Regions from separate parts of the Homo sapiens genome. Here region 2 is linked to region 1. The links come from fine-mapping of genetic effects on gene expression. Tissue or cell type: whole blood. Region 1 holds a variant in brackets; the other region holds the start of a gene. All regions are shown on one strand. Distances are between the middles of the regions. Region 1 overlaps TLR5 (toll like receptor 5). Region 2 holds the start of TLR5 (toll like receptor 5).

Region 1 (4,388 bases):
CAGATGAAGTTTAGCTTGCTAGCCTGCCGCTCACCTCCTGCTATGTGACCCGCTTCCTAACAGACCAGTATGGGTCCATGGCCTGGGGGTTGGGGAACCCTGCTTTATAGTATGCCAATTTACATTCTCACCAATCACGCAGGAAAGTTTCAATTGCTCCCCAGCCTTGCCAATACTTGGTACTGTCAGTCATCTTAATTTTAGCCATTCTGGTGGGTGGGTAGTGGGATTGCAATGTTGTATCAATTTGCGTGTCTCTGATCACTAAAGGAGGTTGAGTATCTTTTCGTTTCCTTATTGGACATTGGATAGCCTTTTGTGAAATTCTTAAGTGTCATGTCCATTTTTCTTTTCTGTAGTCTTTTTCTTATTGATTTGTAGAAGTTCTTTTAGATTTTGCCTGTGAGTCCTTTTTGGATACGTGTATTACAAATATCTCCCTCCATGCTAAAGTTTCCCTTTTCATTCACTGATAGTCTTTTTTTGGTAATAGATGGTCTTAATTGCATTGTAGTCAGCTTTCTCGATTTCCTTCTTCTCTTGCCTCTTGGCCCTATTTACTACCTTGCAACTTTCCCGTGTCTTTAAATAGATTCTAAAAAAATAGTTTCTCCAGCTTTTCTAGATGCTCCCAATGGAAGAACTGGGCAGAACTTCCTCAGGCAATCATCATTAATTTGTATGGTTCTTTCTTCTGGCATTTTCATACTTCTAAATATATATATTTGGAACACTATTTCTTGATTTAATATTGTAGACTTTTTTGTAATCAATTTTACATTGTGGTACATGAGCATTTAACTATCTTAAACTTTTACTCCACAGTCTCTTGTCCTCTTAACGTGGTTCTTTCATGATTTAAAACTTCAAACCGCATTTGCTTTACATAATATCAAGACTCTCTAAAACATTCTTCACTGCAAGTGCACGTGGTTGGCAAGGGATTTTCAGAGTCAGTTGTATTTGGCATGAGTGGGATTCTCTTTGAAGTTTTCAGCAGCTCTAGTCAATATTCTAGATCTTTCCAGAATAGTTGCAGTTTCAACTACAGAAAGCTCTAGCCATTCTGAGATTGAACTGTGGTAGTTTCTCACCATTTTGGAGTGACCCCAGAGGTCTGTGCTATGTGGAATTTATCTATTTCCTGAGGCCTGGCTTTGAATCACTGCGCCATGGAAGACAGGGCAGTCACTTAGCAACCAGTGTCTCAGCAGACTCCCCAGGGCCCACTTCCCAATGTGGCTCCGTTGGGCCTTCCTTTTGCCATGTACACAGCAAGTCTTGTGACGTGATAAAGACTTGGGAAAATGGCCTCAAAAAGAATTCCAACTGCTGGGCCTGACCATGGGAAAGAAGACAAAAGAATTTTAGTAAGTTTTGGATCTTTGCCAGAAAAGGGAAGTTTTGAAATAGAGTGGTATGTTGAAACTAACAGTGGCTAGGATGTAGACATGAACAGGTCCCCCATACACTCTATACAGAGACCACAAAAGATGCCTTTTAAATGTGTTTCATTAGGAAAATTACCTGTAATTCGTGTTTTTAAATAAGAAGATTAGAAAAGGCTGTGGGATAGACTCCTTTCCTATGTTGAGAGTTATCTGTGTTTCAGCTTGTTCTTCCTGTAAAGACACCTGCACTTGTCATTTTACATGTCCCAGGTTTGGTTTGGAAAACAGAGTCATAGCGATGGTCACCCAAACCAAGGGAGGTCCCTGGTGTAGCACTACCTCCAACCCCTAGCCGGACTAGGAAACCCCTTTCCCTAGGAGTCCTGTTCATACAAGGTGTTCTGACCAGGAGATTTCTTCAGTGTCCTGGGTGCCCCTCCCACCCCCTAGAGCTGGGGGAAAACCATGGCTGAGCAGCAGGTG[G/A]GACAGGAGGGCATGAAACCGAGCAGAGTGGTCTTTCCACAGTCTTCCTGATTTGCGGTTATACCTGTTACTGACACAGTATACTTTTGTTTTGTCTCCTTCCTTCTTTTTTTTTTTTTTTGAGTTAGGATCTCGCTCTGTCACCCAGGAGTGCAGTAGTGCCATCTTGGCTCACTGCAATCTCCGCCTCTTGGGTTCGAGGAATTCTCCTGCCTCAGCCTCCCTAGTAGCTGGGATTACAGGTGTGCACCACCACACCCAGCTAATTTTTGTATTTTTAGTAGAAACGGGGTTTCACCATGTTGGGCAGGCTGGTCTCAAACTCCTGACCTCAAGTGATTGGCCCACCTTAGCCTCCCAAAGTGCTGGGATTACAGGCATGAGCCACCAGTGCCTGGCCCTGTTTTACTGTATTTCTTAGCACAGGGTTCCAGGAGACCTTATTCACTGCAAATTCATGTGGGTTCTGTTTTCCTCCCCACCCCCTCAGCTCTCCATTCTAGCCCCGTTCCTAGCTGCTAATCCAGGCTGCCACTGTCCCACTACCCAGGAGGCCTGTGCCATGCCTGGCCATTTGAAATAGTGTTCAGGGGTGTCTGACAGCCTGTGGTCTCCTGCCCTTTTCAGCTTACCACTCAGCACCTCCATGGATATCTTGCTCTCTCAGGCCCTCATCCTCCCTGCCCCTCCAGTGGAAAGTCTAATAACAGCAGGTGTTGCCATGAGGGAGGCTGGGCTTCCCAGTATACTTCACTCATCCACAAGACATTTACTAAGCACATACTGTGGGCCAGGCACAAACTGGGCCTGCGATACACAGATGAACAAGACAAGATCCTGACTGCAGTGTCTCACAAACTAAGCCGTCCATACACATACATAAACACACTGGCGCAACACAATGTCATGTATCAGTGACAGAAAATCTGTCACTGGGGTCATGAGGGATGGGCAGTCTTGCTAAACAAGGAAATTCATCAGGCAGACGAGTGGTAGGATGGGGAGAAGAAATTCCATGGGGAGGAAGAAGCATGGGCAGATGTGTAAGTGGGAAACCCTTGAATGGTCCCCAAACCATAAGTGATCTGCTACAGCCAGTGAGGGCAGGACACAGAAGACAAGGTCTTTCCTCAGGGAACTTATCTTCCAGAGAGGCGGGCAGCCGGGCAGGCTCAGAAAAAAGGATAGAGGAAGTAGTAGTAAGTGCTACTTTTAAAAGACCAGATAAAGTGTCAAGAGTTTTCACAAAAGGGAGAGAGGACTTTGGGTTAGGGATCCCAGGGAGCTTCATGGGCTGGATTTTGAAGAAAACGAAGAAAACGTAGGATGGATGTGCAGAGATGGGAGAAGAATCCAGAGGAAAGAGGTACAGTGGGGACTGCATGGTGTGCGTGAAAATAATGCCATCGCTGGGTGCAGGGAAAGCTCGGTCTCATTGATTAGAAGTGGCCAAAAGAAGTTGGGATGAGAATAGCGTGTATGTGTGTGTGTGTGTGTGTGTGCGCGCGTGTGTGTGTTGGAGGAGTCAGGATTGAGGGGCCCAGTGAGGGGAAGAAGGTGACAGTTTGGAGAGCTGAGTCCCAGACCCATGTGTACCCCTCAAACTGCAGGAGCTGACCTGGAGTTACGCTGGACTTGGAGGAGGCAGTGTGTGAAGCTATGGGGTAATTTTGGCACAGTTTCCTTGTTTTAAGTATTCTTAATCCTTTTGCAAAAACACATTTCTATATTAATAAACATGAAAAAAAGAACAGAATGGAAAATACACATAGATTTCATTTAAGATAAAAAAATACAACTTCAGTGAAATTGCAACTGCCCCCCAGGAGGCCTTCAGTGTATGTGTTCTCTTGTGGTCATTAGGGCAACGAAGGAAAAGATCTGAGAAGCCCTGACATCCTTGGCCAATTTAATTTTCACAGGAATTCTATGACATAGATGCTGTTACGTGAGAAAATGTAGGTCCAGCAAGGGCATACCAAGGCCAAGGTTACATGGCTAATACACAGCTGACTCAGAACTCAACCCAGGATCTGTGTGCAAAGTCCATGTTCTTCATGCAACAGCCTGAGCAGCTGATCAATGAGGTGTGCTAGGAAACAAAGCTGAAAAGGTAGGTTGGTGATAAATCATGGAAGGTCTTGAAGGCCAGGCTTAAATAAAGGCAGCATGTGAGAGAAAGTTCTTGGCTCACTAGGGCGAGACCTGGAGAAGCCGAAGGTAAGAACATGAAGTGCAGTACAGTCACAAGACAGGTAGTGACTCATTCATCCCAGCTTCTTTGGGGCCACCTCTTATCTATGAGACAAAGTGTGACTTGCACTCAACAGTGGCATTGTTTCTGTGGCAAAAGAAGGAAATGTGCCTCTGCTTCTGTTTGTTTTCTACTTAATGTTGTTTTGCAGAACACAGAGAACGCAGAATCATGGACCATCCCATTTTTTAGCTGAATGCTAGAGAAAGCACGTCAGCCATCTGCAACTTCTCCCAAGGTGCCCTTCCCATGATTAGGAT
Region 2 (4,388 bases), 35 kb after region 1:
AAAAGGCATGGTTAGAATGCTATAAGAAGGGCATCATGGCTGGGTGAGGAAGAGAGTGGCAGGACCCACAGCCAGAATTCCCGGAAGGCAGGAATTTGAATTGGCTCTGGGCAGCAAGTGCCTTTCATTATTCTGAGCTTCATATATCCTCATGCTTCCTTTCCTAGGCCTGGCCAAGCCCTTGATGGTCATTCTTAAGTCAAGCTGAACACCAGCTGGCTCTGTGAAGCTCTCTCTTCCTTTCCCAGTCAGTCTGCACTAGCTGTCTTCTTTGAGCTAGCAGATGCTGCCACATACTTTCGCACTTAATTGCGCTCTAATTGTTTCACAGGTGCTGGTTTTGTCTTCCTACTTAGACCTAGGAGCTTTTGGACAGCAGGGACTATGCCTCAAACTTGGGTTTGTCCCAGAGAGCGGAAGACACTATACGCTGTTGCTCTCACATTAAGGGACCAAGGCTGGGAATCACTTAAGCTTCAGAAATCTGATTGAAGCTTTGGATCTGCCTTCTGCATTCTTTTCCACAATGTTAAGAGTGAAACAAACACATCTGGATGCAGTAACTGGACATTCCAGTGCTGTCTGCTGTTTAAGTCTGTTAGTATACAGAGACAAATAAACAGGAGAGTTTTGCTTTCAACACTCAGCAGAGCCAAACTTCCTGATGCACGGGAATGAACAACGGAGGCACTGTTCTGGAAACACCGTCCTCCAGAGAGGCGCTCCCTCCTCAGAAACAACACCGAAAACCTGGCATGGCTGGTTTTGCATTCAGACAATGGCACCTACATGCTTTTTGCTTTGCTCAGAGCTGTAAATATCCAAAGAGGTGATCCTCTGCCATCATTTTGGAAGGAAGAATCAGTCAGACTGATAATTAGGGTCATACGCACAGGCATGGTCATGCTGATTGTTGAAATTTAGATTATTTTTGGCCCAGCACAGTGGCTCACACCTGTAATGCCAGCACTGTGGGAGGCCAAGACAGGCGGATCACCTGAGGTCAGGAGTTTGAGATCAGCCCGACCAACATGGTGAAACCCCATTTCTACTAAAAATACAAAAATTAGACAGGCGTAGTGGTGGGTACCTGTAATCCCAGCTACTTGGGAGGCTGAGGCAAGAGAATCGCTTGAACCCTGGAGGCAGTGGTTGCAGTCAGCCGAGATTGTGTCACTGCAGTCCAGCCTGGGCGGCAGAGTGAGACTGTCTCAAAAAAAAAATTACATATATATATATATATATATATATATATATATATATATAGAGAGAGAGAGAGAGAGAGAGAGAGAGAGAGAGAAAGAGAGAGAGAGAGATTATTTTTGTACTGCTTAGTAATTAGCTTTAGCACGGTCTCTCCTCTGGGACCTCCCCTGGAATTTCCCCACAATCCAGTAACTGAATAATTAGCATCCAGCCCCACAGAACTTCTCCCAGGGCCCTGCTCCAGGGCTTCCCTTCTGACTGGCTGTGCATGGCACACTGGGAATTGTTTTCTGCCCACAAGAACAAGGGTGAACTGAGTCAAGGAGTCCAAGAGATCTTGGACGCACTTCTCAGAATTCGGAGGGGCTGGGTAAATGCAGGAGAAAATTGATGAAACCACATTGGCCCTGCAAGAGCCTGACTGCTCCTGCACGGTAGCTACCCCTAGCATTAGCGGGGAGTCACCAATGCCTCTTCCAGGCACTGAGCAAGAGGGCGGCATTACAGATGCACTTGCCGTCCAAACAGATCATCTCATTGACTAGGTGACTGCTCAGCAACAGTATCTGAAGGACACTAGGGTTACTCTGCTTGTTTGCAGTTCACGGTGCTGGACGGATGTGTTCCCAACACTAGGTAACAACACCGCTCTCCCTCCTCCGGGAGAAAGCCGCAGCCGTCGATTCCCACCCAACAGGGCCTCAGCGCCTTCCCAGGGCAGCACCCTCACTCCTGCAACCACCAATCACCCAAGCCACAGCATGGTCCCAGACCCACCCTCGCCCCTTAGGAAATGGCTTTCCAATTGTGTTTTCACAGGAGCATGGCCACTGGGCAATGATCTTCACAGGCAGGCTTTTTTTTCCCCCTCTCAACATAAAGGCCAGCAATATTTACCACGGAGTCTTGGCCAGTGTGCACTGCCTGGTGCTGTGGGGTGGGGTGTTTAGGGCCTTTTGTTGAGCAGCTCAGTGACTTTCTGGGATTTCCATGGCCCTGCTGGAGATGGCCCTCTGTCTCCCTTTTCCAAGGAAGAAAGTGACTGGGGACAAGCCACCTGCCTCTTCCACAGGGTGGGGGCGAGAGTGACAGCGAGACAGCACAAGAAGGACCCGCTCTGTTTCAAAGCGAGGATGTGAGTGACTTCGTCTGTGCCGAGGTCTCTTCGTCTCCAACCTGCCGGGCACAGGGCACCCACATGACACGCTCACCCCGTCCCTGGGCCGAGGGACCCCACGTCTCGCGGGTGCCGCGGGGCAGAGAGCGCCGCCTAGTGAGGCGGCGCGAGTTGGACATAGACTGGAAAATAGACCCGGACAGCCCGGGAGGAGGGCGGAGAGGAGTCCGACCTCCGCAGGCAGCCGCGTCCCCGCCCCGCGCTGCCTACGACTTAGGGCCCCCGGCCCATCCCCTGCCGCTGCAGGGCGCTCACCTCTGGGACGCCTCCCCGCGCCGCCTGCGCCACGGTTGGCTCCTCCCGGACGCAAAAGCGGCGCCCTCGCTCGGGCTCCTGAAAACCTCGCGGCCCCGCCCACGGAAGGGCCCGCCCACCTGCCAGGCCACGCCCCCGTCTCGGCCACGCCGCAGCTCAGGGTTTTCTCTGAGGGCTGTGAGAGGCTAGGCCCGGGGAGAGGAGGCAGAGGTTATGCTCCGGTCTCTGCAGACTTCCACAGTGTCTATCGAGATCACACATGCCAGCATTGCCCCCTCCCATCCTCTCCTCATCGTACGGAGGAGGAAACCCAGGCCGAAGACCTGAAGTGTCCAAAAGCACAGCCAGGCCAAAGAGAAGCACCATCCCATGTTCTCCCACTCCCACTCCGGTGCTTCTTCAGGTAGGCTAAACTTCAGGCTAAAATGTGAAGATCACAGTGACACATTCCTGTCAGCAGAATCTGCTGCATATGTTTGGGAGCTGGGGTGTTTGGAAGCTCCGATTTTGTGTGGAGGACCCAAGAGAGAAGACAGACCCTTCCTGTCCTATAAGAACAGTGCTCCTCCTGCCCTAACTTCTCTTTTCCTTTTTCTAACTCCCTCTGCCTATGGGGTTTGCTGAAACTTTCAGGAAAAGGGACGTGTCAAAAGAAAGAAATGGACACCCCAGAGGCCGTGCAACCACAGGGTTAAAAGGAGGTAGCCTTATGAGAAAGCGGTGGAGTGGCTTTCTGGGGTGAAACCCAGTTCAAGGACAGAAATAGCACTGTCTTGAGTTAAGACTGGTGGTGGGGGAAGCCTGGGGGTGGGGCGCAGACTGCAGGCGGAGGAGCTCCCTGCCACCTGCCACTTGGGGTGTAATCACAGAGCAGCTGACACTCCCCACTCACTGCCTGGAGGAGCTTGGCGGTGGGATCGGGCAAGGCGGGAAAGATAGGTGTAAAACAAAGCCTGGCACTTAATTACAGTGCAAAGATCTCATTATAGAGTCTTCTCAGCTCCCCTCCTCGGCTGGCAGCTTGAAGCCTGAGTGACAAATTGCCTAGGTAGGTCTCCAAGGGCTGTATGTAGAGGGATGAAACCACCTCCCTGCCCACCCGAACCCCACTGTGGGGGCTGTGGAGAGGGAGGGGATGTTCACACTCTGGCATATGCAGGGGGCAGTGGGGAAGTCTGTAAGGGCACCTAGAAAGCAGTAAGAGCTGGGAGCCACAGTGGCCCTAGCCTGACATAAATAACACCTTGCTGGGGCAAGCCCAGTGTTCCCTCTTTTGGTAGTGGAACCGAGGGCAAGGTTGGGGACAGCTTGACGTGTGGCACTGTTTACTCTGCATCATAGGTGGATGCTGCAAGACCAGCAGGGGCCTGGCTTATCATGCAACTTTGTGAATATGTGGGAGAGAGGAGCCTTCCAGACGGTGTTATGGCCTCCCAGGAACTCCCAAAGCCCCCTCCCCAGGGTGGCATCTGGTTTTGGACACTGGTTTCTGTCACTGAGCTCCAGGGACTCATGTCACACCTGGAAGAACTTTTAGATTCTGTCTGCCTGGCCATGTCTTCCAACAGCCGAGATCATTGAGGAAGATGACAACTTCTACCTGAACAGCCAGGACAGCTTAGGGTCTTCTCACATGTGGACCTTGAAATGCACTTCTGTTATTTTTCTCCAGTATATTCAGGGGAAGGGGGCTGGTGATCAAAGCTTTTGCTGAGCAGGAACAGAAGGGTTGTCACTTGCTTTTTTCTCC

The links. PIP is the estimated chance that this variant, and not a neighbour inherited with it, causes the effect.
Region 2: it holds the start of TLR5, and the variant in region 1 is fine-mapped to the expression of TLR5 in whole blood (TOPMed, PIP above 0.99).

The regions. Positions count from the first base shown.
Region 1 is chr1:223,105,774-223,110,161 of GRCh38, forward strand. It overlaps TLR5 (toll like receptor 5), which reads right to left. Exons shown (of 6, transcript NM_003268.6): 6 at 3,631-4,388. Among named protein-coding and RNA genes, the nearest start is that of TLR5, 35 kb to the right of the region's middle. The variant G/A (reference allele first, on the strand shown) is at 1,875.
Region 2 is chr1:223,140,558-223,144,945 of GRCh38, forward strand. It overlaps TLR5 (toll like receptor 5), which reads right to left and starts at 2,691. Exons shown (of 6, transcript NM_003268.6): 1 at 2,639-2,691; 2 at 1,091-1,206. It overlaps LOC124904522 (a long non-coding RNA gene), which reads left to right and starts at 2,798. Exons shown (of 2, transcript XR_007066895.1): 1 at 2,798-3,041. RefSeq lists a silencer at 2,480-2,849.